2 linked regions of the Homo sapiens genome follow. The protein of the gene in region 2 purifies or fractionates together with the protein of the main gene of each other region. This does not show direct contact. Each region holds a gene or a part of one and is shown on either strand. Other genes may lie near its edges.

Region 1 (4,684 bases), on a different chromosome or scaffold from region 2:
TAGCAAGACCATTTATATGCCAGCTCCCATTTTTTCTTTTGCTTCCCCTCCTCCATCCTCCACAACAAGAGCACATTTATTTTTGCAGTTAACTAAAATCTGGCCACTGCACCGTACTATGAAGATCGCTGCATGCATACCTTTTCCTCTGAGTGCCACTGCTGACCCGAATGTTGGGTGTCTGTGGGCCCTGACTATGCAGGAGGTAAGTGTCTATGGTGGGCACGGTGACTGATGCCTCCCCACTTACTTTAGGGCTGCCGATCTTGCTCTTTCCAAGTTTGCCTTTGCTGCGTCGGGACTGCTCATGGTCAAACTCTAAGTCCTCCAGCCTCTGGGTCAGGGCGAGTTTTTGCTGGATAGCCATTCGTAACAAAGTGTTCAGAGTCTTCTTCTCATCCTCTGCAGCTGCTAACTGTCTCTGCATCTCATCCAACTGGGTGACATATTCATCACATCTGGAACCAAAACAGAGAAGTGGTCAGAGGAAAATCTTGGTGAAACTGAATTTGGGAGTTAAGCTGAAAAGTAATAAATTTGACCGAAATTTAGAAATTTAGAAGACTGGTTTAAAGGTCTAGCAATAGAATGTAGATAACCCACAATAGCAGAAAACTGGAATATATGTTCATCCATACAATGAGATATATGGGACATTTTTAAAAAATTTATTATTATTTTGTTGTTGTTGTTTTGTTTATTTGTTTTTTGAGACTGAGTCTCGCTGTATCGCCCAGGCTGGAGTGCAGTGGCGTGATCTTGGCTCACTGTAACCTCTGCCTCCCAGGTTCAAGCGATTCTCATGCCTCAGCCTGCCGAGTTGCTGGAATTACAGGAGTGTGCCACCATGCCAAGCTAATTTTTGTATTTTTTTTAGTAGAGACGGGGTTTCACCATGTTGGCCAGGCTGGTCTTGAACTCCAGACCTCAAGTGATCCTCCCACCTTGGCCTCTCAAAGTGCTGGGATTACTGGCATGAGCCACCACGCCCAGTCATTATTATTTTTTAAAGAGACAGGGTCTCACTGTGTTGCCCAGACTGGTCTCGAACTCCTGGCCTCAAGTGATCTTCTTGCCTCAGTCTCCCAAAGTGCTGCGATTACAGGTATCAGCCACTGCACCCAGCCCATATGGAGACAGTCTTAATAGGCAATGTCTTAAACCCCAGGGACAGAGTTATCGTGGGGCTGCTGTGTAACAGACGAATAACAGTCAAGTCTCACACAATGTCCACTATACCTGAAGTGTCTTACAGTAGCTCTTTTTACTGTATGACATTGTATTCTTTGGAGGAATGTAACAAGTTTATTATAGGCTATGCCTATAGTATCCAAAATAATAATGTTTATAAAGAAAACATTTCCTTATCTATATTTATACGTTTTAGTTTAGTATAGATTGCAGCTGTTGGTCTTGTCAATTTGACTGATTTGCCTGAATTAGAAAACTGAGTATTTTCAATGATTTCTCAACCAGATGACAGAGCAATGAGTTGTCAAAAAACAAAAAACAGAAAACCCTGCAAAAACCAAGATTTCACAAGGTTTCATACAGATACAGCAGGCTGTCCGAAACATCTTTATTCAGGTTTCATACTTGTGCCGAAGAAGAAAGATAAGCTTAGTGATCTTTTTTCCTTACCAAAGGCAAAACCTGGCACATATACATTTGGAAGGTAGAGGTGGCGTGGAGAAAAAGCTCATTCTGAATTTTGTTTTGTTTTTTTTCTGAGTTTATTTACCCGCTAAAATATGAATAACAAATACTGTTCATGCCAAAAAAAAGTCTGTGAAAATAGACAATTTGGGGATAACAATTCCTTTTTATAAAAAATTATTATTATTTTTGAGACGGAGTCTCGCTCTGTCACCCAGGCTGGAGTACAGTGGTGTGATCTCAGTTTCTGGGGGACTCCTATAAAGCTCAAGAGATCTTTTTTTGTTTGTTTTTAACACTTTTACATGTATCAGCCAAATGTAAATTATTTACTAAATCTGCAAGTAAAGCCATAGTAATTATTCGTGAATTTTGCACCAAGTTTGCATCATACAAGATACACAATTGGTAGGATTTGGTCGGGCATGGTGGCTCATACCCGTATCTCAGGACTTTTGGAGGCCGAGGTGGGCGGATCTCTTGAGCCCAGGAGTTTGAGACCAGCCTGGGCAACATGGCGAGACCCTGCCTCCACAAAAACCACAAAAATTAGCGGGTGTGGTAGTGCAAGCCTGCAGTCCTAGGTACTCGGGAGGCTGAGGTGACGTGGGAGGATTGCTTGAGTCCAGGATGTCCAGGCTGCAGTGAACCGAGATAGCGCCACTGCACTTCAGCCTGGGTGACAGAGTGAGACCCTATCTCAAAAAAAAAAAAAAAAAAGTAGGTCTTTTTTGACACTGCATTGTGACAGCAAAAAATGTATTTCAACAGTATATTGAAAATCTCAAGATTCTGAAAACTTCAAATCAAATACATTCTTAACAATCACTTCATGTTTAAACACAAAATACAGCCGGGCGCGGTGGCTCACGCCTGTAATCCCAGCACTTTGGGAGGCCGAGGCGGGCAGATCATGAGGTCAGGAAATCGAGACCATCCTGGCTAACAGGGTGAAACCCCGTCTCTGCTAAAAGTACAAAAAATTAGCCGGGCGTGGTGGCAGGTGCCTGTATTCCCAGCTACTCGGGAGGGTGAGGCAGGAGAATCGCTAGAACCCGGGAGGCGGAGGTTGCAGTGAGCTGAGATCGCACCACTGCCCTCTAGCCTGGGCAACAGAGTAAGACTCCGTCTCAAAAAAAAAAAAAATTATAAGTAATTAGCTGATGTGATGATTATTAATCTTCATTATGACAGTATCTTCTCGCACAGTACTAAAGGTAAGGCACTTTTATATACTTTCATGTACTTCCTTCACAGAACTCTATTTCAGAGGTGATAATATTTAGCTATTCTAGGAAGTGGGGTTTTTTTCCTTATTGAAAGCTTTTTATTTGGAGGGAGACTCTCTTTGGGGTGCATAAATTCTAGAAACAACCTATTAATATTAGCTTACTTAAAAAATATTTTTATGTAATAGAATTTCTGGATCCAGAGTGTTCAGTAGGGGGCTCTGGAAAACAGCACAGAAGGCTTGCTTTTAGATACGTCAGAGTGGACTTCCACAGATTTTCTTCACACTTAGCCATCCTAGACTACTCACCGAATACACTCAACATGCACAAAGGCAGGGCTGTGAATTTTAAAGCCTTTACCCCACCTACCACACCCAGTCATAGGAAGAAAATACTGTTACCTTGTTGCAAACATTGCTCTCAGGGATGAGAAGGTTGCAGCATCTTCTTTCAAAGCCTTCAGTTCATTTCTAAGCTTCGTCATGGTTTCAGTCACCATTGCTTTTTCATTTTCATATTTGTTCTTGAGATTAGCTAGCGCCACCTCAGCTGTCTAAAGCAGAAAATCACACTGCTTACAATTTTCATATCAGGAAAATCCATCATACAGATTGCTTCATGCTGTGCCTATTATGTTCTTTTATAAAAGGAAAGTGAAATTGATTTGGTTACATTTTATATAAACATAGGTATGCGCTTTGGACACAGGGAAGTTTTTCTTTAATGTCAAAATGTGTTGTGAATTCATAATGTGGTTAAATTGCCCTAGAAGCCCGCTGCGAGCCAGAGTCAGTATCAGGAGCTAAGAGAATGACAGTAGTTTAATAAATATTTAATGCAGATTGCTGAAAGTATGCGATTTTAGGACAAGGAGGGAGCCAAAATGAAACTTTATACAAAAAAAATTTTTTTACCAATTATTTAGTAAAGAAGCACAGCTTCAATAGGAATAATCAAATTGGAATATGTTAGAACTCAAATTTTGTCACCTGTGCTCTGTGGGCCCAAAACATAGAATAAAAGACATACACCATTGTAATTTATAATATGAGTATATGATAAACTATAAATCCATGTTATCATACATTTAAGGAAAAGAAGTGATAAAGAACTAATTACTTTCTAATTTGCATACAATTTGTCCAAACAATGAAATATAGTGAAATATAATTCCTTCAAAATCTCCATAAAAGTAGGGGTTATAAAATGTTGAATGAGTTAAAACATTTGTTTGAATCTGGGATTTGGGCATGTCCGAAGTTCTTGGAATTAATAGTGTTTCAAATCAAGAGCTACCCTGGCACACACACAAGTAAAAAAACACACTGACTGAATCAATGCATAAAATCAGTGTATACTTAGGGATTGCCTGTTTGATGCATAGCACACAGTTTGCATGTTGAAGCCAAACTGGGAACACATGATTTTTACAAACTGGAAACTATAACTTTTCAAAGTGTATACAAATACCCCATACTAATGAACAACCCCATTACTAGCAGAGAAATCCATTACTAACGGGATTTCCCAGGAAGACTACCTTGGTTTTTAACATTTCTTTTTGTTGCTTGAAATGGGCAGCTTCAAACCTTCATATGCAAAGTGCCAACATCTATAGAAATAAATTCTTTCTTAATTAAATCAATGTTGGGATAGGGTACTTTGTTACTGTTTTGATTCCGAAGTAGTTTCTTGTGAGTTTTGATTGGATTTAAATTCAGATTAAAATGAGACTTTACTCATAAAATACTTCTGTATGTTCTGTAAATACTTGGAGGAATCTTCAGAAATATTAC
Region 2 (5,084 bases):
TTGCAAGTGAAGCAACCAAAGAATAGAAAGCACTTCTGGGTGAAATTTAACCTTTTGATCAGGAGATTATATAATAGACATTTCACATAATTTAAGTGAGAATTCCAGTCTTATGGCCAAAACATAACTATTATTATGGGGAAAATGGACATCAAGTACATGTTAGAAAATTACTTCTTATAATTTTGCACAGTAAATAAGACTACAAAACACACAGGCTGCACAAATCTCAATGAAGTGCAGAATTATATTGAATGCTAGGTTAAGGACCTTACCCATTTGACACTAATCTTATTTTGGTGCTCATAGCACAGAGTCCATCAACATTTGATTATCTTCTGTATGGATGTAGATTTTCTAATCTTCTTTTCTGTGTAAATCTTACCACTCCACCACAAACAGATGGCAGGAATGTTTTACACAGTACTTTCTTCAGAGTGCAGTGTACATGGTTGCCATTGAACCAACACTGATAGTTCTGCCAGAAGTAGGAACTGATAGAAGTGTTGCAACACAGGACAAACCTGAGCCTCTAGTCCCAAGTTCCCGACCTAGCTGGCAGTGTGGCCTTGAGTTTGCTAAGCTTCCATTTTCTCATCCATAAAATGGGAATAATGGTAGTTCCTGCCACATAAAGGCAGTATGAGGTTGGTATAAAAGCTTTGAAATGAAATAAAACAGGCTTGTGAGATGGGTCAGTTTGGCCAACATTTCCAATTCTACATTTCAGTGTTCAGCATATTAACATGGTTTTAGGTTGTTTTTGTGTTTCCAACTGCATATATCTCATCATTCATGAGCTGCTCAATTAAGAAAGTCTGAGCCACCCCTAAAGATGGCAACATGAAATAAAGCCATCTTTGAAGCACCCAAAATCACAAACAGGGCCTTGCCCAAGGTTAAGTCATGATTCTGCAGGTAAACTATGCACTGCCACAGTATACGGGGACCCCAAACTGGCTGGTGTAAAAGTCATCCTTCTATAATAGAAATGGAGTCCCAATGCTCTAAATCCTATACAAATCACTTGGGGAATCTCTTTAAAATGAAGATTCTGATTTAGTAGGTCTGGAGTGCGGGCTGAGATTCTGCATTTGTAGAATGTGTTTAGTGAAATATTTTGATGCTACCATTCTAAAGACCAATGATAAATACACTGAAACTTTATTAAAAGGTCAGGGTATATAGAAAACAAAAGGCATGTTTGCAAAATTATTTATTTACATCTTAAGCTCACATTAAAATCTTTCTAGGATAGAATGGCTAAGATGAAATATACAAAGCTGATATAAACACAGAACTCATTAATCTTTATCTGAACAGAAACATAGAGATGGCTTTAGATAATCTGTTTTTCCTTCACAAACCAATGTTCCCTTAAGTCATGCCATGATAATGTCTCCCCATTAAGAACTTAACTTGTATTGCCCAAAAAAGCTGAGAAGCAAAAAGCTAACTTTGATTTGTTAAACAGCTATTCATATGCCACAAAACCAAAACTATTTTACAGTGCTGAGAGGTCCAGATAGGTCCAAACATGATGATTTTTAAATGAGTGCTTTGGTTAATTAGGCTTTGACTTGGTTTTTGGCATTACTTGTATAATTATATCATTCCAATGAGTCACTACAGGTAATCCATTCAAAACATGACTTGCTTAATACTATCACAAAGCACTTAGCCTTGCCTTGACTGGAAATACCTTTAAGATGCTGACAATAGCAACAATTTCTCCTTTCCTTCACTCAGCAAAAGAAATCACATAAATCACAAAATAAAAAATTCATTTCTCACATGTTAAAAAAGCAAAGTCTGCCATAAACCCTTAGAGAAGAAACAGTTTCTCATAATATCTGCCCTGGGTAATAGTGCATTATTAAAATACTAGACCTGCAAGATCTCTTCCTATGCCTTGGAAGCCTATGACTTCATGATCTATTCATGAAAAATATGCCGAAGGCTAAATATGCAATGCATTGAAATTTCTGGGAAGAATTCACATTTAAAACAGTTTAAAAAATCTGGATTTAGTAAGAGTTTTAGAAAAATAAATAAAACACTGTGGTTCTACTTCTCCCCTTCTACTCTCCCTTCACAAATCTAAGCTTAAGTGCAGGCTTCTAAAAAGCAGAAGAGAGTACAATAGGATGAGAGAGGTGGGTTTTACTATCCACATTTTCCTTTTCTTAGTGTAACGTATTATCTCAAAGGCAAACTTGATTCCCTTTTCTTGAAACGAAGATCCCATCTTCTGAGACGATCTTAAATAATTGTTCTTAAATCAAAAAGTTTGAAAATCAGTGCTTTTAATAAGCAACTAAATGCCTATAAAATATATAACTTAATATTTTGAAGAATGCTATTGTAAAGTTTGAAACAAGATCTAAACATTTTTAAGTTTACATTTAATGTCTTTAAAAGGTCTTTTAAAAGCTATAAGTTCTATTATAAATTGCCAACTAAATTATAAATTGCCACTCACCTTCTCAAAAATTGTTGCACAAATGCATACATTTAAGGTATCTGTATGGTATTTCTCATATTGATCTTTTTCCCAATCTCATAAGTGGGATAAAATGAGAAATTAAGCACCTAGATGTTGGTTAAATTCATTTGAGCAGCATTTTGATTTTGAATAGAGATTCTAAATGTAGTCTAAACTTTCCAGAAAGTCATATTTACATTCATTGTACATTTTATATACACATAAATACAAATTTATAGGAAATAAACAAATTAACCTACACCTCTCATACTGTAAAAGACAAAAATTAAAAATACAACAACCGTGATCACATGCTAAGGCCAGCTATCTGGGAAATATTATTGTTCAGTTCCAACAGCAATAACTTTGAGTAACTTGACACATATCACATAAATACACTACAGGTACTTAGTTTATTTTTGTCCTTAGCCTAGGCCAATCCACAGTTTTAAGTGAAACAATTTTCTGTGAAAGCTAATGCCATACAAGTAGTCAAACACTTACTAGAAATGTCTGCACCACAGAAGAAAGATCTAAAGAAGGCATAATAGCAGATGTCAAATATTTTGAAGTATAATTATAGGGAAGGATTAAAATTAACTCTTTATCCAGGGGGAACTCAGGGCTTTCTGACAAGAGCTGTGCAAAAATTCAAAGGTTTGCTTCATCAGTGTGAACTCCCAGTCCCACAAAAAACAGTGCCTTGTCAAGGCTCTTGTAGTGAGGCCTCCTGGGTTGACCGGTGAGACTCATAAGCCCCCAAGAAACCCTGAAGTTCCCTGATGGAAATTATTTTGTTGAGATTGAGTTTCTGACATGATGACTTCTTGGGCAGTTTGCTTTCTCTTGTGTTCCTGCCCATAAAGCAGTGCTTGATTTTGCTGTTCACCTTTTGTAAATAGATGGGCTTGGCCCTCCAGGAATATATCAAAGCGAACTTTTCGGATTATTGTCTCATGAAAACAAGCAGGTTGTTGTGATGAACTTGGAAAGTGCCCTGCACCTAGTAAGTCTTCCACCAACTGCTGGCGGAAGTGGCTAGCAGAGATTATAATTGGAAGAAAAAAAAGGTTACCGAATCTAAAATGTTGACTGTTCTATAAAGTTTTGATCTTGAGCATGAGTGGAAAGTCCTATTTGGCACTCCTTGACCTCAGGTGGCATGCCAATGATTATCACAGTAAGAAATTCTTAGAATCAGATTTGAGGTATAGAAGGAATAAGAAACACAGAAAATTTTGACCTATATTAAATAAACTCTTCTATAAGTCAGGTTTTTAACCCTAAAATCAAGGCCTTTTTTCCCCCAGAATATTAAATTTACTAAAAACGTAGAAATAAAAATTCTAGTATGGCTGTAAATATATAAGACAAATAAATGAGGTCACATGGTTTATACATTTCAAATTCTTAGAGAGGCCCTACAGTAGTTCAGGAAGACAGTTTACAGTATTGTTCCCTGAGTTCTTGAGGCAACCTCAAGTAAATTTATGAACTCTAAGATTTGAGAGACAGAAAACCTACATGGTCTGCTTATCCCTCTTTTCTAAGAGTAGCTATTTACTCCAAAGTGGTTTGTTCAGTGCTTTCCCTATAGTTCAACTGCTTTAATTATGTGGCTTTATCCGTTTCTTAGAAGACCAGCTCCCCAAATGAAACTTTTAAGAGAAAGAAGAAAAGGCTGTTTAAAGCAAGTAAGCTTTTAACATTAGTTAAGAGTGCAATTGAGTAAATCAGTTCTAAATCTATAATACAAGAAGAGTGGTAATACTGTCACAGGTGTTAGAAGGTTAGAATTCTACAGATTTGGGTTTGTCTGATGTCAGCGGTTAATAACCACTTAATAAGCCCTGCCTCCTAACCAATTATACTCTACTAATTGTCTACCAATTCAAAGAACCAAAACTATTATAATGACTTTCCAGTATTTAAATATGTAAGAACACCTAAATTTGGTTTTAAAATAAAGTTTATAACAACCATTCTCATCAGATCTCAAACTTCAAATATCTAGATTTTACACATAGATTTGTAATAATTAAAAAAAAAACCAAAACCACAAAAACTCATTCAAAACTGGTATTTTTTAGGTTCTTGAATTTTCATATGTCCACATTCTTGGTGGCTATTAAAATTTTAAAATAAATTCAAATCTTGGGAATAATTTAAGTAGTGAAATATGTGAGTATTTATTTTCAAACTCCCATAAGGGTCTATTTAGAAAAACTAATTATGATAAATGGAAACTCCAGTTGTGTTGCTGGCAGTTTTAGGTTAGGCTTAATTTTAAGTTGAGAACCTACTGAAATGTTCATCTATTTCAGTAAAGTGCACAAATATGAGTGTACCCTTTGGTTTGGCTATGACCTCAAAGGAGGTGTAGAAGTCAATGGCGCTGGTGTCAGATTCCTAACTATATTACTGAGGCTGGCAATCTTCTCCTCCAGGAGGTAATTTTTCTTCTCTGCTGTTTTCTGTCGCTGTTCAGTCACTTCCAGAGCTTTCAACAACTGGGCATTTTCAACATACAAGTCCTTCACCATTGCGTCTGCCTTAGTGTTCTTGCAGAGCTAGAAACAGAACCAGAAACATCTTGACT

What was found. The genes of interacting proteins can lie anywhere in the genome.
Region 1: the proteins of NIN (region 2) and BICD1 purify together in Homo sapiens (co-immunoprecipitation; one study listed by IntAct). This does not show direct contact.

What each region holds. Positions count from the first base shown.
Region 1 is NC_000012.12:32,333,273-32,337,956, reverse strand, and holds part of BICD1 (protein bicaudal D homolog 1), read right to left. Parts: intron 3,442-4,684; coding exon 3,290-3,441; intron 459-3,289; coding exon 141-458; intron 1-140. UniProt on the Homo sapiens protein: Regulates coat complex coatomer protein I (COPI)-independent Golgi-endoplasmic reticulum transport by recruiting the dynein-dynactin motor complex.
Region 2 is NC_000014.9:50,718,618-50,723,701, forward strand, and holds the end of NIN (ninein), read right to left. Parts: intron 5,056-5,084; coding exon 4,846-5,055; 3' UTR 1,146-4,845; downstream 1-1,145. UniProt on the Homo sapiens protein: Centrosomal protein required in the positioning and anchorage of the microtubule minus-end in epithelial cells. May also act as a centrosome maturation factor.